4 linked regions of the Homo sapiens genome follow. The protein of the gene in region 2 interacts with the protein of the main gene of each other region in a pairwise test. Each region holds a gene or a part of one and is shown on either strand. Other genes may lie near its edges.

The links.
Region 1: the proteins of RTP2 (region 2) and ERGIC3 interact in binary tests that used the Homo sapiens proteins (3 or more experiments, as listed by UniProt).
Region 3: the proteins of RTP2 (region 2) and LIME1 interact in binary tests that used the Homo sapiens proteins (3 or more experiments, as listed by UniProt).
Region 4: the proteins of RTP2 (region 2) and ELOVL6 interact in binary tests that used the Homo sapiens proteins (3 or more experiments, as listed by UniProt).

The regions. Positions count from the first base shown.
Region 1 is NC_000020.11:35,552,078-35,558,430, reverse strand, and holds the end of ERGIC3 (endoplasmic reticulum-Golgi intermediate compartment protein 3), read right to left. Parts: intron 4,060-6,353; coding exon of another isoform or gene 4,045-4,059; intron 3,388-4,044; coding exon 3,356-3,387; intron 2,399-3,355; coding exon 2,302-2,398; intron 2,225-2,301; coding exon 2,160-2,224; intron 1,459-2,159; coding exon 1,322-1,458; intron 1,238-1,321; coding exon 1,182-1,237; intron 1,007-1,181; coding exon 927-1,006; 3' UTR 797-926; downstream 1-796. UniProt on the Homo sapiens protein: Possible role in transport between endoplasmic reticulum and Golgi. Positively regulates trafficking of the secretory proteins SERPINA1/alpha1-antitrypsin and HP/haptoglobin.
Region 2 is NC_000003.12:187,699,554-187,707,754, forward strand, and holds the start of RTP2 (receptor-transporting protein 2), read right to left. Parts: upstream 3,005-8,201; 5' UTR 2,576-3,004; coding exon 2,412-2,575; intron 1-2,411. UniProt on the Homo sapiens protein: Specifically promotes functional cell surface expression of olfactory receptors, but not of other GPCRs.
Region 3 is NC_000020.11:63,732,167-63,739,603, reverse strand, and holds LIME1 (lck-interacting transmembrane adapter 1), read right to left. Parts: upstream 2,941-7,437; 5' UTR 2,892-2,940; intron 2,072-2,891; 5' UTR 2,055-2,071; coding exon 1,957-2,054; intron 1,784-1,956; coding exon 1,702-1,783; intron 1,632-1,701; coding exon 1,544-1,631; intron 1,422-1,543; coding exon 1,105-1,421; intron 1,007-1,104; coding exon 704-1,006; 3' UTR 501-703; downstream 1-500. Other genes in the region: ZGPAT (zinc finger CCCH-type with G patch domain-containing protein), read right to left, coding at 3,685-3,823, 4,040-4,445, 4,780-4,959, 5,865-6,017, 6,252-6,385.
Region 4 is NC_000004.12:110,195,345-110,202,986, forward strand, and holds the start of ELOVL6 (very long chain fatty acid elongase 6), read right to left. Parts: upstream 3,272-7,642; 5' UTR 2,992-3,271; coding exon 2,903-2,991; intron 1-2,902. UniProt on the Homo sapiens protein: Catalyzes the first and rate-limiting reaction of the four reactions that constitute the long-chain fatty acids elongation cycle.

The sequences.
Region 1 (6,353 bases), on a different chromosome or scaffold from region 2:
ATCAGAGCTAAAAGTTCTGCTGTCACTACCTGACTTCGCTTCCTTTCCCCTCTCTCTCGCTTTTCCCCTGCCACAGTCTTGCATCAACATTCGAGACATGATCTGATAAACTGACTGGCTGTTTAGGTACCCCTGGTTCCCTAGGCTGTGGACTGGTGAGGTTGCTGGGCCCTGGTTCTCCACATGGATCCAGAGTTCTAATGGGAAACCCTGATTAGGCTCCAAGCCAGGGGTCTGGTGCTGGCCCTGCTCCAGAATGGCCACTGACTGCTACTTTCGCACCTCAGTGTTCAGTTTTGCTTCCATCTAGACTGCAGAGGACCTGGAGGGATTCCTCTCTGCAGTGAGAGCCAGCGTGGGGTTTGGCACAGAGTGGGATCAGTGAGTGTGACAGGATCAGGTGTATTGAGCCCAGGGTGGCGGAGAGCGGCCCCAGCTTTACCCATCAATGAAGAAGTGGCAAGCCCCAATATGCACTCAGGGCCCTGAATTAGTGGCCTGGGGTTGATCACTCATGAGCCTGGGGGCCATGGTGGCTCCAGGAAGCTCACGCTGAAAAGGTCCATCTGAGCCCTGGGGCTGAACCCGAGAGGCCTGAGGACCACAGTGGAGGAGGGACCCAGGACAGGGCTGTGGGCTGGACATGAACCTGGTTTGAATAAACCCCGGTTAACTAGGGGATGCCCATGTGGGGCTCCCGAGGGCTCTGGGCCCCGATCTGTCAGTCACAATTGCCTTCAATGAGTGGCCAGGATGAGGCTCTGGCCATGGCAAGGATCACACGGAGACCAGTGAGTACTATCACAATCAATCAATAGATTTATCAACCTGGGGCTGGGGCTGACCGAGGAGGTGGAGGGTGGCAGAGGCTGGGGGACAACCACAGGCCAGGGAGAAAGAGGAGACAGAGGAAGCACCGAGGGTGACTACGTTGTCTTCCCTAGATCAATTTTCTTCTGGATGGCTCGTGCTGAGTGGTAGATGAGCGAATCGATGAGTCCAGCCACTGGGAGAGAGACAAGGGCTGGCACTGGCCCAGTGGGGGCCTTGGCTTTTGACGCTGAGAGCCTTGTCACTTAACTGGCCAGGCCAGCATCTGCCCCTTCACCCCCAACCAAACCTGGGGCACCCAGGCTTTACCCTCCCCACCCCACAGCTCACAGACGCCCTGGGCCTCTTACCTGTGAACATGCCCCCAATGATGGCGCACACACCTGTCAGGAAGTGGGTGAAGGACCTGGTAGAAGGAGAGGGTGGGCTCAGCAGGCATCCTCCTCCCTCAGGCCCAGGCCCCCAGAGGCCGCTTTGCCCCCATCCTCACCTGTGCTTCTCCGTCAGCTTCACCATCATGGGCGAGAGCTCATAGAGGACGAAGACTCCGGGAAGGCCTTGGTCGCCCAACAGCCCATTGGCAACCTTCTCATGTCTGGTCACAGAGAACTGATTTGTCCTCAGTACCTGGGGTGGGAGGGGAGCCTGGGCCAGGGCTAGGGCTAGGACCTGGCTCCAGCCACCATCAGCCCCACCCCTGCTCCTTCCCCTTTCCTGTTGAGCCTTGGCCGTGTAAGGAGAGAACACAGCACCGTGCTAGTGGCCTGCACTGCAAGGCCTGGCCCGCCAGACCCCCTCTCCTAGTCTTGGCCTCAGCCTTCCCCTCCAGGTGCCAAGTCTTTACAGTTTACCTATCCTGGCAGCATTTGGTGGGTGTTCTCACGGGGGTCCAGGCTGAGAAGCAGCTCTCCAAAGACGCACCAAGGCTGACCTGACTTCCTCTGCCCTCAGCCCCTCGCATCCTGCCACTCTGCTGAGATGCTGCTCCACAGGCCAGGGCAGCCTTGGGAGCGGGTACACAGAGACTTGCCTTGCCTAACCCCCAGCCCAGGCAGACCACAGAGAACAGTGAGGCAGGCAGACGGTGGGCACCGGAGGAACGGATAGAAGCGGTGAGGGCAGCAGAAAGAGCAGGCGCTTTAAATCTAACAGCCCCAGGCCTGCACTCTGCCTGGGAGGGCAAATCCCCCACCCTCTCTGTGCCTCAGTCTTTTATTCGCCATGTGAGGACGAGGCAGCTTTCACTCCCCAGGCTGACGGAACGAAATGCAGGAACTCCAGTGCTTGGCACCGCGCAGGAGACTCTGGTAGGGAGCTCCCTGACTCACCTCTCCGTCCACCTTCATGTACACAGTGGGCACCACCTTCACAAAGTACTGGAACATCATGGAGGCTGAGGGGAAAACAAAGCACTGGGTATGGGTGCCCGGCCGGCCTTCTGCGGCTGGGGGCTGCCTCCCGGGCTGGTACCTTGGGGCGCAGTGACATTGGTGTGGTCCAGGGGGTTCACAATGCCTGGATAGTCCTCCCCAAATGACAGGTGCTGGATGTAGTGGGTCATGTTGATCTGTAAACAACACCATCCAGAGCTCATCCAAAGCTCTGATGACAGTAGCAGACAGGGACACCTGGGTCCGTCTGCGGAGATGTGGGAGGAAGGGGAGGCTATGGTCCTAAGGGGACAACCTCCCCGAGATAAGAATCCCCCATTCCCTGCCTAGAAACTCCTCCTTCCACAGCCTGCAAACTCCTGGGGTTCCAGATTTTTCTTTTTTTTTTTTTTTTTTGAGACAAGGTCTCACTCTGTTGCCCAGGCTGGAGAGCAGTGGCATGATCTTGGCTCACTGCAGCCTCGCCTTATTCAAGCGATTCTCTTGCCTCAGCCTCCTGAGTAGCTGGGATTACAAGCATGAGCCACCATGCCTGGCCAGGTTCCAGATTTCTTAAAATACCAGCTTCACTTGTACGTTAGGCACACAGAGTAGCAGGTGCTGGCTTTGCCTGGAGGCCTAGGCTGGAGGCTGTGAACCCCCAGATACACTCCCTTCCTGCTCCCTTGTGTATCAGCCTCAGACACTAGAAGGATCTTTCCTAAAATGCAAATCTGATTATGTCGTGATCCTGCTTAAAGAAGGCCAACAGCTTTCCACTGTTCTCATGAGAAAGATGTGATTCCTCAGCGTGGCCTCTGAGTCCGGTGTGGTCTGGTCCCTGCCGACTTCTCCAGCCTCACCCATCCACACCTGCCCCGCAGTTCCTTAGAAGGGCCATGCTCCCGCCTGACCTTGCGCTGAGGCTCTGTCTGTCTAGGATGCTCTTATCCAACCCCAATCTTGCCCCTAGCCTGCTCAGAGTTCAGTTCAAAAGTCACTCTCGCTTAACCCTCAGGCTGGATCCCCATTCAGAACGTGGTGTATTTTTCCATATGCACTACCCCATCCCAGGATGTTCCTACAAGGAAATGAAGGCAGCAACCAAGCCTCCCACCCCCACCTGCCCTCCATGGTTTCCATCTGGTACGTACGTTGTCAAGGCCAAAGCTCTGCAAGTCATGGACTAGGAGAGAAGGGAGAAGGCAAGGGAGAAGGCGTCATTAGTAGGAGCAGCACTGGCCTCCTCCTTCCTCCCCCTGGACTGCAAACCACCTGTCTTCTCTGCCCCTCATTCCTTCTCCAGCCTGGCACCTCCTGGTCCTGCTTAAGGACAGCCAGAAAGGGCAAGCCTTGGGCCTGTGTGAGAGTTCACGCCCTCCTCAGGAGTCTTTAGAACAGACCCTGGTTCCTCCCTGACGTCCACAGGGAACTCTATGCCTTGACTACCACCATGGCCCTGCCTGCATCTCCGGAAACAAAACCCACCGACTATGGGCTCTCACTAACTAGAGCTGATGGCAAATCACTGAACCTCAAAGTGAGGTGGGATCTGAGAATGCCATCCACACTTTCCCTGCCTCCACCCTCAAAGCTCCCCAGAAGAAATCCCATGGGGACCCTGTACCAACTGTTCCAGAACAATTTATTCCTGCCCTCTAGCCTCAATCCCTCCTGCTGCAAGGAACCATACTTCAAAGATACATCCCAGACCTTTTACAGTCACCCAGCAGCCAGGTCAGAGGAGACCCAATCACAGCCCCATCCAACCTCCCCGCCATTCTAGTAGGGCAGGCTGCCCCAGAAGTAGGGGTTTGGCCTCCATGGGGGCAGGGCCACTTACTCTCCACAGCATGTACTGCAGCATGGGGGAGGGAGGAGAGAGAAGAAAGATTCAGAGCTTCACAATGAGAACTATGAGAGCAAGATATGTTGCAGGAGGGAAGACTGGAACATTCAGCCTCAGCAACACAGTCTGGCCCCAGCTAACAAGCCTCCTTCTGGGCCCCTCCTCGAGAGTGAACTAATCTGGCCAGAGAGGAGCAAAATAGTGGCCTAGAAGGACAAGAGGCCTAGAGCTCAAAGAGCCAAGTTCCTGACTGTGTGGCCTTGGGCAAATCAGTTGCCCTTTCTGGGCCTCAGTGTTCTCCTTTGCAAAGGGCTGTCCTAAGGATCACGTGGGATCTAAGATGGAAAAATACTTGTAAACTTTACACTGTAAGAGATTATTACCCACCCCAGCCCCAATCAACAAGGATGTTAGAAACTCACTCCCAGGCCTCAATTCAGCCAGATCTCTGGCCTTGGGCAACTGTACCTTTGCATTTATACATCCTTCCAAATACAGAGCACCCCCGGCCCGGGGATCCACAAGTCTAACAGTCCCAGGCCAAGAGGCTGCCACTCTGGCTGTGTGTCTACTGAGTGCCCGCCAGACCTTGTGCCAACAGCTTGACACTGATCATCTTCCTGCCCTCCCAGCAAGACCCTTTTCTCCCAGCTTCCTCCAGAGTGAAGAGGGGGTCCCAGAGCTCTGCAGGGTCCTCCAGCCCCCACACTGGCCCCTCCCCAACACAGCCCCACCCCCACAGATTGCCCTGAAGACCAGCAGAGCTACCCTCCAGGGGGCCCTTTCTTCCTGTTCACTTCAACCATTTTGAGAGGCCATCTTCATACCCTGGGCTCTGTCACTGTGCAGCTCTGTCCATCCTTTACTGTGACACCAACTCCCACCTTCCCCAACCCTGCCTTCAACCCCTGGGTTCCTCTTCACTTTCTTGCTTCAGCCTGGCTCTTCCTTTCAGGCACTAACTCCCTGGCATCCCCTCAACGTGCGACTATCTTCTCTCCATACACAACCTCTTCCCTGGCCTAAAGAGAAGTCTTTCTTGCTCCTTACTGCCACTTCCAGATCACTTTCCCTTTATCTGCCTTAAAAATGCACAATGGCTCACATCTGTAATCCCAACATTTTGGGGGGCCAAGCGGGAGGATCACTTGAGCCCAGGAGCCTGGGCAACATGGCAAGACCCTGTCTCTGCAAAAAAAAAAAAAAAAATTAGCCAGGCATGGTGGCATGTGCCTGTGGTCTCAGCTCCTTGAGAGGCTGAGGTGGGAGGATCTCGAGTCCAGGAGGTCAAGGCTGCAGTGAGCCAAGATTGTGCCATGGCACTCCAGCCTCAAAAAAAAAAAAAAAAAAAAAAAAAAAATCCCCAGCTTTGAAGCTCAGGGCAAAGCAGCCCTGCTTGTTTCAGTCACCTAGATATCGATATGGAACCTCCAGAACAGTTTTCCCATGCCATTTTTCAACAGCTTGGGCAACTGCCTGTCACTCTCTCCTGTACTACCTCTGTCACACGTTCTAGTGATTTCCATATCCACGTAGATGATCCTTCCAGTACCCGGGCCTCCCAGTTCCTGGACATCCTTTCCTCCCTGATCTTGTGCTCTGCCTACCCAAGCCACTTGCTCTGTTGGCCATTCCCTAAACTTTGTCATTAACAAAGCCCCTTCTGTGACTTCAATTTCAAGCAACTCATGCTCCACCAGCTTTCTAATTTCCTCCAGTTCCCCAATTCCAATAACTTGTTGACACTACACTCAGGACTTGTAGTCCCTTTTTCCTCCTGCCCCCTCACTGGCTTCTCCACATCCTGTCTTTCCTCCTTTCCTAGCTCATATGCTGTGGTCCAGAATCAAGATGAGTTCTTTACATATTTGACTCCCTCACCTTTGCAGGCACCTGGCAACACCAAACCCCATGCAATTGCAATGTTCTGTTGACTGAGTCCATTCCCACACAGACAACCATGCTGACCGCTCTCTTTGCATTCACAGCCGCGGACTCCAGGGAGGCCCTAGGGCTGCATCAATCCTACTCAATCTCCCCAGTCCACGCACTCTTCCACCCCCAAGTGACCAGTCACATCTTTTCTTCTTTCAAATCTCCAACACCTCCTTCCCTCTCTCCTCATTCTCAACTGAGGACCTTCCTTCCTACAACACGGAGAAGATGGGAAGACTCAGAAGAGACTCTCCATGTACTTCTGCCACACCAGCTACCACCCTACCTGTACCTACAGAGCCTGCCCTTCCTCCTGGTGCTAAGTTTGGACTTTCCACATATGTAAGGCACTAGATTCTGTCTTCTTT
Region 2 (8,201 bases):
GGGATGGACAGACCGGTAGATGGGTAGGATCAACTGGCTTTTAGGAGGAACTACCAAGTTTAGTTACTACATCTTCACAAAGAACACTCCCCAGTCTCTTGACAAGTCTTCTCTAGATCCCACTCTAGCCCTGCAGTGGGGACTGGAAAAGAGGGTATTCATTCCCATTGCCACTCCACACACACACACACACACACACACACACACACACACACACACACACACACACATATATTTTCTCTCTCTCTCTTACATGCACAGAGGCCACTTGGCGTAACCTGGGCTTTCTAGAGTCCCAGTCTCAGGAAGTGTTGTGGGTGGTAGCCTGGGGCTCATCTAGGCAAGCCCCACTCACTCCGCCCCCACCACTGCCTGCACACTTTCAGTGATGCAGCACTCCTGACCTCCAGGGCAGTTCTTTCCTTCCCTGAGATGAGCCTCTTCCAGGCCTCTGTTATAGAGGCTTCACAGGCAGTCAGATGTCCACTGGGCTGTCCCTGTCCTCATCACTGGCCCTTTCTGGATCCATTGTATGATGGCCTTGAAGGACTTCTGATTAGGAACTCAATTCAATCCAACAGACACCATTCAACACCTCCCATATGCCAAGCACCACTCAACCCAGGCTATGGGATAGAGGTGAGGCCAAGCCTGGCTCTGACCCCTGAAAGCCTGATCACATGAGCATAGAACAGTACCCAGAATGGCCCAAGGTGGGGTTGGCAGGTCAGAGGAACCTAGCTGGTACTGAACCAGGAGAGGTTCCCCGCCCCCAGTGCTGGGTGAGAGCTGCAGGGCATCTGCCTGTTTAGAGACAGAGTGAGCCTGTGCACAAATAAGCTCATGGGCAGCAGTTCTTCAGCTCTTCCTGAGGCCAGCTGGGAGCCACAAGTCACCAGCCAGGAGTAAGAGGAGCTGACCTCTGAAGCAAGAGGAGACATGAGCTTGCTGAGCTCAGCCCCGAAACTCTGGATCCTGGGCACTCAAGTTTCCAGGCATCTGCACCTCTTCCACCAGGCAGTTCAAATGCTTTATGTTTTCAGTCTCCTTCTACACCTTTTTACATCAAACCAACCCAGAATTGCTTCACCTACATCAAGTTAGGCCTCACATCTTAAATTCAAAAATATCAGATCTGGGGGCAGGCGAGCTTAAGAAGCATCTAGTCAGCCCTTTATTTCACTGAGAAGAGACAGAAGCCCAGATAGTAAGAGAGGCATCCATGTACACACAGCTAGTTAGAGGCAGAGCCAGTGCTCAGCACATAACAGGTACCCAATAGATGCTTCTTGAGTTGATGGAACTGACATGAATCAGCCAACCTCTGGTTTTCTGTCTTTTTTTCACAAGGCAGGTTTACTCCAATAATTCCAGGTCTTGGGACAAGAGTACAAACGTAAGCTCCCTACCCACATCTTGCCTCCTCTGTTCCCACCCTCAGCACCATTCTGCACCATGAGAAGCTTCACACACATACACGTGAACAACCCAGCCTTTGTGTCCATGTTCTGGCTACATCTCCAGAGCACAGCCACTTACTGGCCTCTCTTGAATCCAAGGACACAGGAAAAAGGCCTGCACAGACACTACAGATGGACTTGAGGTAGTCTGGGGAGGAATTTCTGTAGTCCCAGTCCCCAATCATGATCTAAAAGGAGGAAAGGCATGTGGACTTTAGACGGCCTCGTCCCCTTGGCCTCAAGGACTCTTTGCCCTGTGGTAGATGTGCAGCTCCTATAAAGAGTGGGACCCTGGGCTCTAAGTTCCTAAAGAAAGTTTTGCTCAAAGCTAAATCTTTTTATCACAGGTGCATAGATAATAGAGCTAGAGTGGATTGGATCTATTATCTAAGACCAACCCCCTCATTTTGTAAATATAAAAACTGAGAGCCAGAAAGGGAAACAGACTTGCCAAGTTTACAAGGCTACTTAGCTATATAGAGCCAGTTCGTAGCACACAGCAGGTGGTCAATAAATGTTTATGTATTCAGATCAAATTGGATTAATTCACTAAACATATCTAGGAACAGAGCATAGCTGTACCCCCTGCATTCCCCCAACTCCTAGATTAAAACTTTCCCCAATGGACCTCATGGCCTCCTTCCTTCAGTTCCAACTCACTCTAAATGTCAGAGATTGCAGGGACATAGATGATATTACAGCTCTTCATTTAATGTGGACAACTAAGACCCAAAGATGGAACATAACTTTCTCAGGGTCACCCAGGGAGTTAGTGGTATTGCTAGGATTAAAAGCAAGAACTCTCTGACCCAGCCGGCTGTCTTTGTCTTTTTCCCCATCTGAGCTGACACCAGAATAAGCCCGCGACTGGGCTCTGTCTCTCCTTGGAAAGTACCCCACAGCTGTGACCCAGGGGCTGTCTGCAAGGTCCCTCCCCACTGAACCTCTCACCTGCCTGAGGCGTGCTGCTCCAGGTACTGCTTCCAGCCAGGGGCCAGCTCACTGGGCTTGAGGTTGGGGTCTATGATGAGCTCCCAGCTGTCCGCTGGCTTTGCCACCTCCATCTTCTCATAGAAGACTTTCTTCCACTCACAAGTGGTCAAGCTGGTACACATGGTCCTGCTGGCAGAGGTGGCAGTTCGAGCTCAGCCCTGGTGAGAACACAGAAAGAGCACGGATAGGTACGGGACAATTCAGTGTCTACGGTCAGAATCCTCATCGGCAGGACTGGGAGTAAACAGGACCCAGCTCCCTCCTCTGTTACCCTGGAACCTGTTACCATGGTAGCCAGGCAGGGCACCAAGAGTGAGGGCTGGGGAGAAGGGAAGCCCCAAGGGGGAGTTTCAGGGCCCTGAGTTAGGCTTCAGAGGCAGCGCTGGGTAGGCCTGAGAGGAGCAAGCACAGTGGGAGGCCCAACCTCAGACCACACTCATCTGGATTTCCAGAGGTCTCCAGGAGGCAAGGACTATTTGGTGGCCCTGCTTCACCCAACTGCTCTTCTAGCATTCTCCACATCATGTGCTATGGTAAGTACGACACCCTAGGAAGTCAAGGAGAAATGAGGGACAGGGAAAGGCAGAGCCTGCTGCTTCCACACCCCCTGATATGCTGTGACCATCACTTACCATGTGCCTAGCACAAACCGCTTGACCTGTGTGCTGGCCAAAGCAGATCAGATCAGGAAACTGAAGTTTATGCAACCCCTAAGTGGCTCATCCAAGATTCAGATCTAGGCCTTCTGAAACCGAGCTCATTTGTTTATTTATTTTAGTACTATTGTGCTCCTAACAGGGAATTGAGTGAGAAGTAACATCTCTTTGCCCAGGGCAATCTTAGACCAGTTGGTGAGCTAGAATGTAATTTCATATGCCATGCAAAGCACAGTAATAACATTTCAGATTCATAGCGTCATAGAACTGTTAGAGCCCATATTCAGTTCCTGGTCCCAAGCCAGGCTAAGGTGGCTGCTGGGGTAATGAGTTTGTTCTGTGCTGCAGGCTCCTGCTGCCTCCATTACTGCTGAGCTGGAGCAAGAGAGCATCCGTAGCTCTGTGATGCCCAATTCAAATTCTTTAGAAACCAGAGGGGAATCTGACTTCAAATTTGGTAATCCAAGTGAAGACACGGTTACCTGAAGGGAGGCTGCCTTGAGCATGGAAAAGACCAGGCATATGGCTGCTTACCCTAGCTTTGGTCCAACTTCCAACTGTAATCATCTTACGATTCTTTAACCCGGAAGTCTGGATCCCTAGACACGCAGAGTTCCAACAGTAAAGAGCTTCAAGAAGTGAAACAGGTTGCTAAGAACCGGAAGCTCTTGGTGTTGAGTTGCCAAGTGGTTTTCAGGAAGTGTGAAGTCAGGGACAATGTCACTGGATTCTCTCTTGAAATGAAAAGTGTTACTCTAGCGGCTTTGTGCTAAAGACCTCAGAAAGGACACAATTGTCTTTGAACCATTGACTGACAGCTCTAGAAGAGCTCTTTTATTTTTAAAAATCTGGTTTATTTCTTGAACTCTTCATTTCTTAACCAAAATTTATTGACATTGAATTAAAACAACTGAGGCCTGGAAATGGAAAATTACTGGCCCAGGCTCTCAGGACTGGGTAGCTCAAACCTCACTGGGGATTCCCTTAGAAGCCAGTTACCAGACCAGGTGAGACAGAGGGATCCATGAATGGCCAGGAACTGAACGAAGCTGAGATGAGCTTATGGCCTGGCCTAGACCCTCGTGCCAGGAAAGAACCTCTGAGAAATAGTATACCCTTGTTCCCAGAACAAATGGCAATAAAGGAAAAACAGAAAGAGGATGAGAATTGTCAGGGTTTACCTGTATTTTCTTTTTTCCTCAAATAATGCAATCCCCTTAGGCCTAGTATCAGGTTTAATTTAGCATAGCAGCTTCTAAGCAGAGACCAATAGAATTCATCTTTCTGTGTAACAGCACTGTTTTCACTTTTCATACAATCAGTGAGCACAATTACTACTTCAATTTTCCGCGAATGACACTATCTTATTCCAGAACCCACGATTTAAGAGCTCACAAATGTATATTGTGTACAGCTGTGGCCACATCACACTCTGGCAGCTTCATTATACATATTTTGTCTAGGCAATACTTTTTCAAATAAAGAAATTGTTATTTCTTTATAAAATAAAATACTGAGCACCTGTATTCTGCAAACAAATCAGCAAGGGGGAGGGGATGGATAAAAGAATCACTTTTCCCCTTCAATTTGGAATGCAAGTTAATGAAGAGCTTTGTAAAATATTTATTATTCAATTTTACTTATTAGAGTAATGTAAGAAATGCCAGTGTGGAGCTTAAAATGACAAAGTAATGAAGAGTTGAAAAGGTGTGTACATCAAAATCACCTGGAGAGTTCTGAAAACTGTATACACCTCTGCTTCAGAGATTTCAATACATGTTCTTGAGGAGACAAATTTGCTCTCCACCTACTCCAGTCCTGGGAAGAATCCCTTCTATTGCCAGCCATTGTTACTGATGGGATATGTTGTCCCACAGGCTACTGGAGGCCAAAAATGAAAAACAAAAAAAGAAGATTGAGTAAAATGAGCTAGTGGTTTATAATATTTCTTTACCAGGAAATAGATCCAGGACAAATGCAAGGTGTGTCCTATCTTCTCCTGTGTCTCCGCAATTCAAAGAACCGTAGACGATGCTATAGGGCGAATCCAAGATCCCCTGGGGAGTATTTTCAAGAGATATTAGGAAGGCCTCTCCATCCCCAGGATGTAGCACTTAGCGACAGCATGGTCCAAGCTCCCACTCTTTGGGTGGGAGCTGACCTCTGAATCTCAGGGGAGGCCACACAGAGCAGTCCATGGCTCTCTAATAGTGGCACATAGTGGAATCTTCCCAGGAAGATTTTACGCTGCCCTTTTATTAATTGGCAGCAACCAGAGCAACTGCAGGCAAGTGACATTCTGTTTCTGCTGGTGTCCAAGGGCCCAAATTCTGTGCACCATGCTTCCCAGCACCCCAAAGGCTCTGGAATCTGTATTAAGAGTGACTATATCTACTTATCCTTTTTTCCGGGTCTTATTATCCTAGATAGAGATTTGGTGACGAATCTATTATGGGATGTAAATACATAAAAAGACAGATAGAAATAGGGTGTGCTCCATGCAAGGGAGAAAAAAAAAAGATAGGGGTTGAGTTAGGAAGGAAGAATATAGAGGGTCTGGGGACACTTTCAGCAGGTACAGCCTATGCTGCTTCTGTCCAAGAGGCTGAGGGCCTTCATCAGAGTTCCTTAGCTATACTCAGAGAACCTGCTAGTTTCTGTTGAGCTGAGGCTCAACACACACAAAAATAGCCATGACTCATCTCTGGGACACTCCTAGCCATCAAGGCAGGGTGAAAAGGGAGCATGGGATAGATTGTGCTGGCTTTTAAAGCATCCATTCTAAAAATGACAAGGCTGGGGTCAATATCCTGGGCAGACTTTTAAAAATATATATCTTTCCTTTTAAACACACATTTACCCAGTAGAACATTTGTAGTTCCAGGGCTTTCCAGGAGACACCAATTCACATAAGGAAAGGACCCATTAAAGCTGAGTCCATTCCTGAGGCAAGTCTCTCACGATAAATAGAACGAATTTTACCTTGAGTATCTATCTTTAGGAAACAGGTCACCTTCCAAAGACTGATGGGGATTCCTTGATGAGCAGTCAGAAAGGCTGTTTGGCCCCAACACTTAGCTCAGTTAACTTCCTTGGAGACTTTACATTCCCAGAATTGACTATGTACTTCAATTTACATGGGAGTGAGAAGGGAAAGGACTAATACACTCATTAGTATTGTATTTACCCTTAAGGCTGGATACTGACTTTACCCTTTTTCTTATCCAAAAATCAAGATAAAATTGTTCAAGTGCATAAAATTGGACAAACATTACATAGATATTGCATAAACAGGCAGTTAAAAGCCCCCAGTAAAGATTTAAACAGACCACTTAGCTCTGACATTGGAACCAGAAGATACACAGTCAATAGGAGTCACAGGCCCAAAATGATCAGGCTTTGCTTAGAGTTAAGTTAAATATGCTAGAAACACTTCAATTTATTTCCCCAGTTGTCAAACAATTGGAAAGAGCATAACTACACACTATAAAAATGCTTTCTTACTCCCAAGGATAAGGCAGGTAGGTTTTATAGTAAAACAAAGCATATGAGACGCAGATCTTACATGAGATGTAAAACAAATATGTTAAACGAAGATGTTTTACATGAGATGTAAAACAAAGCATATGAGATGCAGATCTTTATATTTCTCAGTAAATTTGAGCTTTCTTGATATATGCTTATAGACACTATAGTTAAAAAGCTACATTTCTTGCAAAGTCCCAAGGTAAATATAAGTAAAGCTTGGGAAGAGAGAATTCTACAAGAAAACCCACTGACCAGAATAAAAAGAATTTTAAAACAGAAAGATCCCTTGATTAGTGAAACAAGAAAATGGCCACAACTACAAGCCAGAACAATTATAGTTAAATTTGGATATAGAGTGGGAGCACATGAAGAACCAATGCATGCCTCACTTCATCTCACGCAGAGTGAATATTTCTTTTCTTTTTTTTTCTTGGGACAGTCTCACTACGTCAAGCAAGTTGGAGTGCAATGGCGTGATCTCGGCTCACTGCAGCCTCTGCCTCCTGAGTTCAAGCGATTCTCCTGCCTCAGCCTCCTGAGTAGCTGGGATCACAGACGTGCACCAGCACACCTGGCTGATTTTTGTATTTTTAGTAGAGATGGGGTTTCACCATGTTGGCCAGGCTGGTCTCGAACTCCTGACGTCGTGATCCACCCACGTCGGCCTCCCCAAGTGCTGGGATTACAGGCATGAGCCACTGTGCCTGGCCAGAGTGAACATTTCTTTAAACATGACCCACCCCAGTAGCAATGAGCACACCTACCACACACATCTGGGTTCCTAATACCATTCTCCAGTTAAAATAACAACAACAAACTAGGTCTTCTTGGAAAAATTATATGAAGGCTCATTCATTCCTATGTCTGGAGGTTGATGCTGCCTGTGAGATGGGACCACAGCTAGGTCTATGGGCCAAAACATCTACACATGGCCTTTCTATGGAGCCTGGGCTTCCTCACAGGATGCTGGCTGAGTTCCAAGGGCTGGTGTCACAAGAGAATCAGGCAGAAGCTGTGCTTCCTTTTATGAGCTACCCTCAAAAGTCACAAGGCAACACTTTCACCATTGCCCAGATTCAAGGTAAAGGAGCATAGACCCCACATTTGGATAGGAGGAAAGTCAAAGCTATGTTGTAAGAAGATGCAAGTCGGGAGATACCAATGTGATCGTCTTTGGAAAACATGCATTGTCACAGCAGGTAGGGAAGTCAATAAGGCTTCCACAGAAGGAGTGGTATGTGAATAAACCCTTACAGGATGACCAATTGGCAGTTAAATAAAAAAAATGTTAAAGGGGTGCTTTTCCCTAAGGAGGGGAAAGCATGGGCAAAGACTTAGAAAATGAAATGACATAGAATCATTCTTGAGACTCCATATCATTTAGGACATCTGGATCACACAGAAGAGTGATGGAAGTTGAGGCCTGAAAGATACATGGGACCTGGATTATGGAGTTTTTAACACCCTGGCAAAGTTGAGATTTTGCCTTAGAGGGGACGTGAAATTACTAAATCGTTTTAGGCCTGAACTACATGATCCTATTTGCATATCAACAATGTGCTAT
Region 3 (7,437 bases), on a different chromosome or scaffold from region 2:
GGTCGCTCCCGCGCTGGCCTAGGGAGGGAGGCCCGGCCCGGCACAGCTCCGAGGCCTCCGCCCACCTCGCGCGCCCGCGCGCCCCGCCGGGGAGGGCCCGTTCCCCACGGGCGCGCTCGCAGAGCTGCCAGAGCCGGGGAAGGGGCCGCGATTGCTTGGCGGGCTTCCCGGCAGCAGGTTACTCTTTAACGCTCGACTGCCCACCTCCACCACCCCTTATGTAACACCAGGCTGGGTGGCGGAGCCCTCCCGTGGAGTCCAGGGTCCAAGTCCCACCCGGGGGCGGCCACCCTGCCGGCTGCGCTGCCCCCTAGGAGTGGCTGGGACCCCGTGCCCGCACTGACCGAGAGTCTGGCCGGCAGGAGCACCGCCTCGGCTAGGCCCGGGCGCCCCGGGGGCAGCCAGTCCCCCAAGGCCAGAGGGGACAGCTCCAAGCCTTCCAGAGAAGCCCCCCGCCCCAACCCGCCCAGCTTTCAAGAAGAGCAGGCTGCGAGGCTGGCCGCTTTCATCCTGCGCTGGCGCTTTATTTAGACGCGGGCCTTCTCTGGAGCCCGGGGAGGCCGCGGCTGTCAGAGCGGCCAGGACCTCACGGACCTCACGGGCTGGCAGCCCGGGGACCTGGGACTGGCGCTGTCAGCTGTGAGGCGGGGCGGGGCGGGGGACGGGCCTCACTCTGGAGGAAGGAGCACAGGTCCTTGAGTGTTCAGGGCAGGGAGGCAGGGAGGGGTCTCCAGCCCCTCCCTAGGCTGGGGCAGCTGGAAGCAGGGGGCGTCCCAGCCCCGCACGTGCTGCTCCTGCCAGCAGGGTCCCCCAGCTCCCGGATGCTCTCATACACGTTTTCCAGGGGGCCGCTGTCCACATCCAGGGCCCTGAGCGGGAGGGTCTGGTAGGCCAGGTCACCCGCCAGGGCCAGAATCGCTCCCTGGCCCTTGGGGTCCAGCGGGTCTGTGGTGGGTCCTGGGTCCCTCCTTTTAGGCTTGCAGACCCTGGAGTACAGGACGTCCACCTGGAGACAGGAAGCCAACCCGAGGAGGGGTCAGCACCATCCAACCTGCTGAGGATCTGCCGGCCCCACCCACAGCGCCCTACCCTGGCCCACGTTACCTGAGCGGCCGGGGTCACCTCAGTCTTCCCCTGCTGTGGCTCTTGGGGACTGCGATGGGTCCCTTTGCGCTTCTGGACGCGGGCATACTCGGCCACCACAGGGCTGGCCGCCAGGCTGACCCCGGGAAGGGCCGCCAGCCCCACGTTGGAATAGGTGGCCTCGAGGCCAGCGCACCCTGCGGTGGCTGCAGCTGCCGGCAGAGCCCGGGGCAGCTCCTGGTGTGGGAAGGCAGAGGGGGCTGCCTGCGGTCCGGTGATGTCCCTGGACACCTCCAGCCAGTGTGGGCGCAGGAGATCCATGCTGGCAGGCCGCAGGGCTGGGGGTGGGGTCAGGGCAGAGTTCACTCCGGGCAGGGGGCAGGAGCGGGTCTGGCCCAGGGGTTGGCACGCGCTGCACAGTAAGCCCCGCCCGGCCGCCCCCGCCCCGCCCTCTGCTCACCCCTGCTGCTGCGCGGGCCCCGGTGCAGCTCGTGCAGTCTGGTGTCCGACTTGCTGAGGGAGCAGAGGTGGGTCCGCCTCAGTAGGGACTGGGGGCGAGGAAGGCTGGTCGGTGCCCTGCGGACCCCACCCTGGTCCCCGGGACAGCCTGGCACTCACCGCTTCCGCCGCCGTCGCACTGCCCTGCAGCCTCGCCCGCTGCCTCCGCGCCCTCTTCCTGGGGGCTACAGCGTCCTCGGGCCTTGGGGGTAGAGGTGGGGGGCGGGGGGCGGGGTCGTCAGCCTCGGGTCCAAGGCCCGGTGCAGGCGCGCGTGCCGAGCTGGGTGCGCGGACCTGCCTCCAGCCCCTTCCCGCGCTGGGCTGTGAATGGCAGCCGCAGCGAGGCCCCAGACAGAACGCGGCTGAGGGACCTACCTGCGGCAGGCTGTGCACAGCGCCCACAGCGAGAGGAGCAGGGCGCAGCACCCTAGAACCCAGAGGGCAGGAGGGGCCCAGGACACTGGCAGCCCCATCCTGTGAAGCCGAGGCCCTGGGGACAGAAGAAAGGGGCGCTGGGGGCTGGCCAAGGGGACCTGGCGCCACCTGGCAGCCCCAAATCTGCACCTCCCGCGGCTGCGGGGCTCCTGCGTCTCCCGTTCCAGCTCTGACTCAGCACAGGAAGCCCCAAGGCCTGGCAGTCCCTCCCTCCCAGAGGTGCCCACCTTCTGGCGGGGGCTCCCGGTGAGGTGAACTAGGGCTGCTCTGCCTGGCCCCTCCGTGTCCCTGCGGGTGACCACGGTAACACCCAGCACGGCCGTGAGGAGGGGCAAGACAGCTGTGGCCACCATAGCCCAGATAGTAACCAGCATCGGGGGAGCCCCTGGGTGTGCGCCACAGGCCACAGACTCCACCTGCAGCCACCCTCTGCCCAGACATGGTCTCCTGTGTCAGGTAGTGCCCCCAAGCCGCTCGCTGCGGAGCCCAGAACTGGGAAGAGCTGGAGGCTGGTCAGCAGGAGGGACCCTGCACCCGGAGGAGCTGGAGGCTGGGTCAGCAGGCAGCAGCAGCTGCTGGGGGTGCTGATGCCCCCACCCCACTTCTCTCTGGCTCTTCTTGTCTGCCAGTGTCTCTGCCAGAGAGGATCTGTCCCCTTCTTGGGGATCTTAGCAGAACTTCTCGGGGTGGGGGATGCCTTACAAACAGCACAGTCCAGCAGCAGAGACAGAAGCTGGGGGGTGAGGGGTGGTCTCTGGAGTTTGGGGCCAGTCTGCTCAGACCCAGGGAGTGGGCTTCAGCCTGGCTGACTGACCCAGCTGCAGCCACATCCCAAGGCCTCCCAGACCCCAGCTGCCCCCCAGGAGGGCACTTACCAAGCCCACGGCCAGGGGTCCTCAGCTCTGTCTGGGGCAGGCCAGGAAGGTCTTTGTGCAGCCCTCGGCTGAGCTCCCCACCTCATCACTTCCTGCTCCTGTCGCCAAGCGCCTCCCCTGAGCCTCCCACCCTGGGCAGCAGCCACCACCGCAGCCTCACCCACCTGCTGCGCCCCGCCCGAAGCCTAGATGAAACGTGTGCGCCTCTAGCCCGCACTGTTCTGACAGCCTAACTCACAACCCCTCCACACACGAAGACGTGAGCAGAGCTGGCACAGAACCCCCAAACCCACAGGGCCAGGTCCGCCTGCCTCACCAAGAGTGCCCCACGTGGTGGGCCACAGTCCTCTCCCGCCCGTCTCGCCCGCTGGAGCAGCACTGAGCTCCACCCATCTGTGGGTGTCAGGCAGCCTGGCGGGCACCCTGGCCTCCGATCTGCCTTGGTCAGAGAAGGGTAAGAAGGGAGAATGCCGGCCTCCTAGGCCCCTCCAGCCCAGCCCGTCTCTCACCACAGCCCTGCACAGACCCTTCTCTCCCCAGAGACCCTGCAGCCAGCTGATCTCCACTGAATGACACTGTGATGAAATCACTTTAATGTCCTTGCCAAGGAAATGCCCAAGACACTGGCAGGTGGGCAAGTAAGTGTCCAGATGGGACCCCGCAGCTCTGTCTCCACTCAGCAGTGTCTGCACGCCCCAGGCCAGCAGGCCGGCCCCTCCTCGGGCAACACTGGTCTTCCTGAGGGCAGCCCGTGCTGGGGTCCCACGCTTCGTCCATAGTGCTTGTGGGGTCTCTAGAACTCAGTCATCTTCTTGTGGGTGTCTGCCTTCCTCTGCTCCTGCTGCAGGCCGGCTTCCTGAGCCCGGAGCTGCCCCAGCTGGCGCTGGGCTCCTGCCAGCTTCTCCTGCAGCTGGGCTGACGCCACGCTATGCCTGCGGAGGGGCTCACTAGTCAGCGTGGGGTCCTGGGCCATGCCACCAACCCCAGTCTGCCGTACCCACTGCCTGTGTGCCCGCTGCCCGTCCTCCAACATGCAGACCCCTCCTGGACTCAGCCCGCTATGCTTGGGTCAGGTGACCTCCAGCATGTATCCCGGGGGCAGGGCCACCCTGGGTCGCCCTTTGCCCTGAGCTGGGCCCCACACGTACCGGCCAGCGTTGCGGGCGAGAGCCTCCTGGATGCTCCTGATGTCCCGCTGGGTTCGCTCGATCTTCTCCTCAGTCTGGAAGAGCCGCAGGCTCAGGGCCCGCTTGGCACTCTTGCTGGCATGGTACATGTCCTTGCTCCTCCTCCCCGCTGGGGCCGCCCCGGCTTCTAGGGCCCCAGGAGCCTGACCTTGCAGCTTTTCATTGAGGAAGTCAAACACATTCCGAGGAGCTGGGCGGCCCCCAGGCCTGGCCCCTCTTCCCCGGCACCTGGGGGGCTTGTTGGTGCCAGCCTTGCCAACCCTGGTCTGCTTCTGCAGGGTCTCCACACACTGGTCCAGCGACTTCCCTCGAGGCAACACCACAGCATGGATGGGCTCCACCCGGCCTTCCGCGTGTCGGCCCAAACCTGCGGAGGCACGGGGATGGCAGTGCTGTGGCTGCGGGACCCCGGGAATCTGAGGAGCACGGGGATGGCAGTGCTGTGGCCACGGGACCCCGGGAATCTGAGGAGCACGGAGATGGCAGTGCTGTGGCCGTAGGACCCTGGGAATCTGAGGAGCACGGGGATGGCAGTGCTGTGGCCGCGGGACCCCGGGAATCTGAGGAGCACGGGGATGGCAGTGCTGTGGCTGCGGGACCCTGGGAACCCGATGGCTGCGGGACCCCGGGAACCTGATGGCTGCTGGACCTGGGCTATGCTGCAGCAGCCTGCCCACTTCTCCAGGGCAGCTTGTACTCACCCTTGCCAAACTCATAGCCCATCTTGGTGAGGAGTCTGGAGCCTATACCTCGCGTGTGCACCTCCCAGCCAGCAAAGGCAGAGCTGCAGGTCCCAGAGTCCACAGCATCTGACCCCACCACTGCAAGAGACGGACAGAGGGCAGAGGACTGTGCAGAGTCCACGGCGTCCGACCCCACCACTGCAAGAGATGGACAGAGGGCAGTGGCCCAGCCAGGCCAGAGGATTGTGCATGGTGACCCGGGCTTTGACCAATGAGCTCAGATCCTGGGCAGAGCCACGACACCCCACCTCTTGGGCTCCGTGCTCTCGTCACCGAGGCTGCTGTGGGCATGTGACACCAGGCAGAGTGCATGGCAGTCCCCACGGCCTGCTGCACCGTGGCCCCTCCTCCGCAGCCCTCTCCTGCCCCTGCCCTTCTCCACCTTCGCGAGGCTGTGAGCGCCTCACCTGCCCTCACAGAGTCCTTGGTTCAGTCCTCCTTCACCAGGGACATGGGGCTTCAGAAACCACCATCACTGATCCCTGGGTACACCTCCAACATGCAGACCCCTCCTGGACTCAGCCCGCCATGCTTGGGTCAGGTGACCTCCCACATATATACACACACACGCACACGCATACACACACCCCTCTGGAGAGCTGGACACTGCCCACCAGTTCCCATTCCCGAAACTTCCATGCTGGCTGTCTGGACACAACCTCTGTCTGCCAGGATCCCAGGCACCCAGGTCCCAAGTCTGAGAAGCCATGCAGAGGAGCTGCCCCTCCTGCACTCCAGGCCCCATCAGTTGGTCATTTTCTGTGACTTCCTCGGCAACTCCAGGCCCCTCCTCTCCCATGGCCACAGCCACGACCATGGCCTCCCATCAATGAGACTGTAGCTGTTGCACCCACACTCCTTGAAGATAAAGGCCGCCACGGATCTACCCCTACCCACACGGCCTCCTCAGGCACAGGTGGCACCCTCGCCGCAGTCACACACTCTCCAATAGTTTGGTTAGATGGTTGGTGCCCTCACCGGCCAGGAGCCTCTCAGGGTGACCCCACCTTCCTGGCTCCTGGGCTCCGCAGCTGCTGCCATACCTCTGGCATAGCTGGAGTCACCCGTACCGTCGCTGTCTGAGTCGGACTCTGTGGCCTCTGTGCGCAGTGGGGGCAGGATGCCGTCCCCCTCCACCACGGCCTCCCTCAGCAGCAGCGAGTCAAACTTGACTGTGTAGTAGCCGTTGTCCACATCTGGGGGCAGAGACAAGCTGCAGGTCAGAATCCTTGACAGCAGGTGCCACTGAAGGGAACCACCCTGGACATGAGGAGCAAGGCAGGGCAGAGGCTGAGGGTAGGTGTGCTCATTTCGGGCCCAGAGCCAGAGTCCCGACACTCAACCCAAAGGAAGCAGGGAGCAGCCACACAGTGACAACACACGTGGGGCCTGGGAGGGTGTTCCCGGGAGGCCCCCACGGCCAGCCTCACCGGTGATGCGTGCTGCGTGCCAGAGGCCATCCTGGTGCTTGGCCAGACACGCAGAGCCGGCCTGCAGGGAGCTCAGGTCTGGGTCCTGGAAGGGGCGCAGCTCATCCAGAGAGACCACCTGCCCATGGGAGAACCTGCAGACAGAGCCGTAAGGGGCAGGGCTCAGACATGGGCCACCAGGGGCAAACCAACCCAGGAGCACTGACCCATCCGCCTGGGCACTGTCCTGAGGGAGACAGACACACACGCGTGCGTATACATACACACTCTCACACACTCACGCACACACATACACACGCACACATACACACACACATGCACACACTCACGCACACATACACACATGCACATATACACACGCACATACAGATACACATGCACACATACACTCACACATACACATATATACACACTTGTGCATATACATGCAGGCATATACACACACATGCATATACACACGTACACATACACGCATACGCACACGCGCATATACACATGTACACACACATGCACTCACACAGGCACACACAAGTACACATACACACGCATAAACATGCACTCACATGCATACACACACGCATATACATACGTACACAGGCATACACACACATATACAGACATACACATATACACATACACAAGTACACATGTATACACATGCATACACACATGCACACAGGCATATACACATGTACACACACATTAACACATGTACTCACACGTCATACACATACACAGAGACCCTGACACGCGTATAAACATGCACTCACACATGAACTCATGCAAATACAGATGCAGTCATACATGGATATACGCACACGCCATCTCACCCACACGCGCGCACACGTGCCCTCACCCACACACATACGCCCTCACCCACACACATGCGCACACAAGCACCCTTACCTACACACATGCGCACACATCTCTCACCCACACACACGCACACACAGGCCCTCACCCACACACATGCGCGCACACACACCCTGACACATGCACACACACACCTCACCCACACACGTGCACACACATGCCCCCTCACCCACACACATGCACACACACACGCCCTCACCCACACACATGCGACCTCTCATCCACACACACGTGCACGCACACATGCACCCGCACCCAAACATGCACACACAGATGCACCCGCACCCACACATGCACACACATATGCAGTCAC
Region 4 (7,642 bases), on a different chromosome or scaffold from region 2:
CCTGTCGTCAGGTAATCCACCCACCTCAGCCTCCCAAAGTGCTGGGATTACAGGCAGGAGCCACCACACCCGGCTAATAAAATTAAATTTTAAAAAGTGTTTAAAGTCTTTTTGGCTGTACAGTTTTTGGGGAGGGAGGAGAGATAAAATTGGGCACCCTGGGATATTGGGAGAAATGCACAAAATCTGGCATTTAAAAAAAAACATGAAAGTAAGACAATTAGGGTCAGGAAGAGTTGCAAGGGAGGGGTAACAGCCAGCAGGGTTCTTTGACTGCAATAAGCAATCTAAGAACATAACATCAACAGAGAGCAGAAGCCAGGAAGGGAAAAATCCCAAGATGTGACTCTGCCACGGTATGCAAGTTCTAGCCTGTTAACCTTCGGGTATTAACGAGTAGTGCTGGCAATAAAATGGGCACCAATCACCATTTCAACTCACTGGACATTTTCTCAAGAATGTGCCTTATGCAAAGCACTCTGCTAGGTGCTTTGCAGAATCAAGAGTGGGATGACAAGAACCGTAACCTGAAGAGCTGATGGTCTGTAAGTTAATAACCATGTATATAACAGTAAAGGATATTGCCAGAAGAAAGGTACAGATAAAGAACTAGGAGGAAACAGTGGTCAGAACCTAACAGGAGTAGATACGTTGGCACATTTTTGTCATTTTCAGTCCCACGAGGGCTGAGACCTGTCTGGCTCAGTACTGAGTGAATGGAGAGAAGAGGCGGGAAATGGTACCTGAAGCAGGCCTAGGAAGTGGCCTCAGAGAAAAAGCAACAAGTAAATAAGAGGCAGTATCGACTGCAGTGGGCTAGGAATGGCGGGCGTACAGTGAATGGGGTCAGCCAGCAAAGCGAGGGAAAGCGGACTCCGGAAGAGCAGGTTAAACCAGGACGCAGCAAGTCAGAGATTCGGCACAGAAGCAAATGCTGACCACACTGACCACACAGGCTAATGCGGGAGGACTGTGGGCCCGAACAGGCCGGCTGGAGGATATGACAAACATGTGCGGAGAAGACCCGGGCCCGGGGCTAGCCAGCAGCGCGGTTCCGGCGCCCGCCGGCTCCGGCCACCGCCCCCTCCCCGCCTCCAGCACCACCCCCTAAGCGGGAGGAGGAAGTGCATCCAGAGAAGGACCCCGGGCGGTGGGGCTCGAGGGGCCTCGGCTGCCCCGAAACGCCGAGGTCTATCTGCGGTCTCGACCCTTAGTGTCCAACCTCCTTCCGGACCCACCCCTGCACCCCCTGGCCTCAGCGGCCCGGGAGGGCACCAGCCCTGTGCCTGTGTGGCTGCTGCACTTCCAGTCCTTCCGAGCGGCCCGCGTCCCCGCCTCTTAGGCTCCGGCTCGGGCCAGACGCGGCCCTTGGGCCCCTAGCCCACCGCCGCCACCAGCCACGCCGCAGCTCACCCCAAGCAGGCCTGCCCCGCCGGTGCGCGCGGCCCAGGAGGCGGGCTCCGCCCGGCAGCCGCCGCAAATGGCCATTGGGGCCCGGACCAGCCCGCGGGAAGCTGGGAGTGGGCGCGCTCCGGCCGGGCGGGAGGAGAAGGAAGCGGCGGCCGGGCCTCCCGACACTGGCCGGCGACTCCAGGGGGCTGGAGGACAGGAAGTTGAAACCCCCTTTTCGCAGCTGCGGCCCCGTGGCACCAGCTCCTACTGCACCAACCCGCCCAGGCCACAGGCGCGCCGGCGTTTCTGGTTTCCAGTTGAAGAGGGCAGGCGGGAGGGCGCGGGGCACGCGCGCTCGCGCACGCGGCGGGCGGAATCCCCCGGCTCCCGGGAGACCCTGCGGCCCGACCCTCCCCGGTCAAGCCATCCCCCGGGCTGCCGGCCCCTTGCCTAGCTCCGGGGTGCGTTGGGCTTGAACTTTACAGATCGCCAGACCCGAAGTTAAGGGGAGGAGAGGAATGCCTCTGCCACAACCCTGTCTACAAGAAGCGAGATGAGCACACCCTCCTCTGTTAAATATTGCAAGGTGACACTGGATCGCCTCCCACACAGGGATTTTCAAAAGGTCTGGCGGGGGGACTACAGTAAACAAGAAAGGTGTTTTCCCTGATTATTAGTTTCCTAGGGAAGAGCCCCTAAGGACTCTGCAGACGGAGGGGCTTTTAATCTGTGTGCCTGAACTCCAATCAGCAGCTACGCACAGAATTAGAAGTGTGTCCAAAAGGCGTTTCCGTAAAACAGAAACTTAATAATGGCGTGGCTCCACTCGCTCGGGTTCATTCATTTATTACTGTTTTCATTGTCCCCTCCTCCCTCCCACCCGGTCTCTCTATGAAACCGGAAAGGGAACCGCGTGGGGAAAGGGGTACTAAAAAGGGGGCATCCGCCTGAGGAGCGGCAGACAGAGGAGGACGGTGAAGTAGGAGCGCTGCAAGGAGAAAGGAAGGACACGAGGGATGGAGAGACAGCGAGGACCAGGGCCAAGGGCGGCGGGCGGGAGAGGGTTAAAGGCAACAGGAGACAAGGTCCTCCCTCCACTGCCTTTCACACTCCGGTTGCGGGAGAGGCCAAGCGAGAAAACCCAAATCTAGATGAAAACCGGGGGAGGGGAGGGGAGCACAGGTAGGCGATCTGGACTGTGGCATCTCTCCCGCCTTCCCTGTCGCGCAGACATCACCCTGTGCACACACATATGTTCTGTGTTATATAATCTATATAAAAGATGCCTATGTAGCCGCGGTTCACACAGGGGCACCCACAGACCTCGCGCTTCATGTACCCCCCCCCCCCCAGCGTCTCCTGCACCCGGGAGACCCGAGAACTCAGCGATCAGCTGGCTGCCCGCGATTCATCGCTCCATTCACGCCCAGGCAGGGAATACCGACATTAAGGCACTCCGGGAAGACGCGCAGGGCTCCCGGGAACAGTATCAGGCGAAAGCATCACGTACCAGTTTTCCTGCATCCATTGGATGGCTTCATTCTCGTTGAACTGCTTTTCGAATTCATATTCTTGTAAAGTCAACACTGACATGTTCATTGGGGCTGATCTTCGGAGTCGCTACGTGTTCTCTATACAAAATAAAATAATCTGTAAAGCGCTTGATTTCGAGTGTTCTCCTGTCTGCTTCCCCCACCCACCCCCCTAGGTCTTCCCCACGCCGCTCGGTCTCCAGCGGTCGTCTCTTCTCCCAGCCTCTCAGCTACATCCAGGGCTGAGCATTGCCTGCGCCTCCGCTCCCAGCTCCTCTCTCTGGGGCTCTCCTCCTCCCGGCGTCCGCATCCACCGTAGGAGGAAATGAATGCCTTGCGGTCTTAGTGCCCGCACGTTTGTCCATCACCCTTTTTACTCGTCTACAGGGAAATCTCCTCCCCCTCGTGCGATTTGAGAAATTAACCCTTGGCGAGGGAGTGTGCGAAAGAGCGCGACCTCTCTCCGCCCGGGGGGGACAGTTTTGTTTACAGCGAAGGTGGTTGGAAGAGTGGGGGAAGGGCGCAGAGAGAAAGGAAGTGGCCTGGAGGTCATCCAGATCCCCTAAGCCCAACCTCGTGGGCCGCCTTGCTTTGAATGAAGTTTCAGCTTGCAGGGCGCATCCCCGCGGCGCGTGGACCCGAGAGCTTGGCGAGTAAACGATTGGGAAATAGTAAAACCTGCCAGCTCTCTTGCAAGAGAACTCCGGGCAAATCTACGTTGAGATCACCAGTGAAGGGAATACGCTTCCCACCTCCTCGCCCTACCTCTGGGACCACCCCCACCCCTACCCCCACCCCCACCCGGGAGCTCTGGCTTAGATTCACGCTAACCCAGGCCCTGCGGACGGCAGAGCTCCTTAATCTCGTACAGACAGGGGATGCTGAGTGTGAGGATAGTGGATAGGCGAGAGAGGCTAGTAGCCGGAAGTGGAAGAAAGGGCTGGGTTAGGTGGAGGGTTTAGGTACCGGGAAGGGGGGGATTAATGAACAGAGGCAGAGTGGGGAAGGAAGCTGACAGGAGAACTGGACCGACTGGCCAAATGCAAAAACTTTATTTGCATGCATGAGAAATTTGGCTTTACTTGCTGTACTTGTAGGTAGAACAGAATATGTGAGGAGAGGGCTGAATGTACTGTTGACCCCTACTGGGCCCTCAGCCTCCAAGAGGAAAAACTATTTTCTATTCCATCCATCCCTCCACTCATTTCCCCCAAGAGTTTGGAAAAATGAAATATGAGACATGGAAGTATCTAATGATGTAATTGTAAACTTTACAAAATAATAAGGAGCCCTGCTTTTAAAAATTAGGTGGATATTAGGACCAGAAAGAAAATTCCCCTTCTGAGAACATCCCCCCACCTCCCCAGTAGTCCAAAAAGGGTACTTTCATTCAATTTAGATGCCTCTAACCCACAAAAAGTGGGAACTGGGAGAAAAATTTTTAAAGGAGGAAGGGACCGGCCGCGGTGGTGGCTCACAGAAGTAATCCCAGCACTTTGGGAGGCCGAGGTGGGCGGATCACCTGAGGTCAGGAGTTCAAAACAGCCTGGCCAACATGGTGAAACTCCGTCTCTACTAAAAATATAAAAATCAGGCAGGCGTGGTGGCGGGCACCTGTAACCTCAGCTACTCAGGAGGCTGAGGCAGGAGAATCGCTTGAACCCGTGAGGTAGAGGTTGCAGTGAGCCAAAATTCTGCCACTGCACTCCAGCCTGGGCGACAGAGGGAGACTCTGTCTCCAAACAAACAAACAAAAAAAAAAAAGAGGAAGGTCTAATGAGAAAGTAAAGAAATAATTTTTAAAATCCAGTACAATATATAGATTAAAGGGCTAGCCTAGTTGATTAGCAAATTAATGTATACATTGACACTGCCAAAGATTCTGTGTAGGGACTGTCCTCATCTCCCCCATTAAGGGTTGTCTTTCTTTTTTCTTTTTCTTTTTTTTTTTGAGATGGAGGAGTCTCGCCCTGTTGCCCAGGCTGGAGTGCAGTGGTGCAAACTCGGCTCACTGCAACCTCCGCCTCCCAGGTTCAAATGGTTCTCTTGCCTCAGCCTCCCCAGTAGCTGGGATTATAGGCAAGCACCACCACGCCCGCCTAATTTTTGTGTTTTTAGTAGAGATGGGGTTTCACCATGTTGGCCAGGCTGGCTGTGATCCACCTGTCTCAGCCTCCCAAAGTTCTGGGATTACAGGCATGAGCCACCATGCCCAGCCAAGGGTTGTCTTTCTAGAGACCTCTACAGTACAAGTCTACGTCACTTTGAAGTAAGGCCCAGGCCAAAACTCTTGGCAAGATTGGGCTGGAAGATAGGTGTGGCCAGATAAGAAAGAACCATTTTAGCACGGTGCCTGAGCCTGTGAATAATCAATAAATATTTGTAAAGTGAATGATTCATCAAATAAATTAAGGTAAGAAGTGAGAAAGGAATCAAGACAGAAAATCCACTTTGGGTGGCTGAGGCAAGACAATTGCTAGAGACCAGACTGGGCAACATAGTGAGGCTCCATCTCTACAAAAAATTAAAAATTAGCCAGGTGTGGTGGTACATGCCTGTAATCCCAGTTACTCTGGAGGCTGAGATGGGAGGATAGCTTGAGCCTGGGAGGTCAAGGCTGCAGTGAGCCATGATCACACCACTGCAGTCCGGCTTGGGTGACAGAGTGAGACCTTATCTCAAAAACAAACAAGCACTGTCAGTGACTTTGAAAACTGGTGACTCTGTATGGAAAGCAATTTGGCAGCCTATATGATAATTTCATTTATTTTTTAGAGATGGGGACTTGTTATGTTTTCCACGCTAGGACTATAGGCACCCAGCATATATCACAATTTTAAATCCACACCATTAATTCACCAGAATTATTTTTTTTTTTGAGATGATGTCTCCCTCTGTTGCCCAGGCTGGAGTGCAGTGGCGCGATCTCGGCTCACTGCAACCTTTGCCTCCTGGGATCAAGTGAGTCTCCTGTCTCAGCCTTCCAAGTAGCTGGGATTACAGGAATGTGCCACCATGCCCAGCTAATTTTTGTATTTTTAGTACAGACAGGGTTTCACCATGTTGGCCAGGACGGTCTTGAACCCCTGACATCAGGTGATCTGCCTGCCTCAGTCTCCCAAAGTGCTAGGATTATAGGCGTGAGCCATCGCACTTGGCCTACCAGATATATTTTGAGTACATACTCATCTGAGCTCTTGGGACTCACAAATGAGACAAACAGGGCTCTTGCGCACTTGGAGCTTACATTCCAGAAGGGAAGACAAAATAATTTCTTAGAGAATGAAATGCTAGGATTACAATTTAACAGCATGACATGAAGGCCTGGGAGTGCTCATTTAAACCTGGAAGGCCTCAGGGAGAAGGACTTTGAGTTGAGACCCCGCTGGCAAAGAGCCAGCCACCTCTTGCAGAAGTGTTACAAAGAAGAATGAGCAAGTACAAAGGCTCCTAGGAAAAGAATAAATTTGCGGGATTGAGGACAAAAGGCTGGTGTGGCTTCAGGCCATCAGTAAGGAGTAATTGAAAGAAACAGGTTGAAGAGACAGGCAGGGGTCAGATCTTGGCCACAGGTAAATCAAGATAAGGTGTTTAGATTTTATTCTCAACTGCAGTGGAGTGGAGGAGGATAAAAGAATGTTAAACCGAATAATAGCATGATAATTCCTAGTAAATTCACTGCTATGGATATACTCACCGAAACATTCCGGATATATGTCTAAGATATTCAGCATTGGGCTGGCATTATGCTTGTAATCCCAGCACTTTGGGAGGGCGAGGTGGGCTGATTGCTGGAGCCCAGGAGTTCAAGCCCAGCCTGGGCAAGATGGTGAAAACCTGTGTCTACAAAAAAAAAAAATACAAAAACATTAGCTGAGCATGGTGGCATGTGTCTATATTCCCAGCTACTCAGCAGGCTGAAGTGGGAAGATCACCTGAGCCTGGGGAGGTCAAGGCTGGAGTGAGCCATGATTGCGCCACTGCACTCCAGCCCGAATGACAGAGTGAGACCTTGTCTCAAAAAATGACAACACCAACAAAGAAAACCCCCACAAATATATTCAGCACTGTTTATAATAAAACACTGAAAATAATAGTTTAAGGGATAATTGGAAGGACAGCCAAGAAAGGAATGAGGTCAATAGACTCAAGTCAATGTGATTCATTGTCAGTCCTGGTGGGCTACCTCTTGACAAAAGCAGAGGAGGCAGCCCCGCTTACAGGCTATATAGCAAGGTTTTATAGGGCATATAACTGGGTCAGGGTGAAGGAAAAAGAAAAGGCCAGGGAGTAGGGGATCCTTTGTGCCAGGTGTCTGACCGCTTCCTGGAGTTGTTTTTCTTGCCAGTTCTGTTGTGTAAGGTAGACTTCTTGACCGCATCCTGGAACAGCTGGCCTCGGGTCCGACAGTTACAGGTGGGGCTTTGGGGCTTAGGTCTATGGGAGCGGGAAACAGTCCAGTTGGGTGGACCCTAACATTCCAGCCTTTTAACAGATGATAGAGAAGGGGCATTGATTTCATCAGACTGCTTCAGGCTGAGAGTGGGCAGGGGCTAGGGGAAAGGCTGGAAAGTGGAGGTTGGCTTTGGTTTTGAAAGTGTTGATACTCCTGGAGTAACATCATGACCTGTATGGTTCCATGGGCAAAGGCATGGATACGATTCTGCAAAAACTGGGTGAAGAGGAGTATTAGGCAAGGACCTAAGATTAGGAGGAGA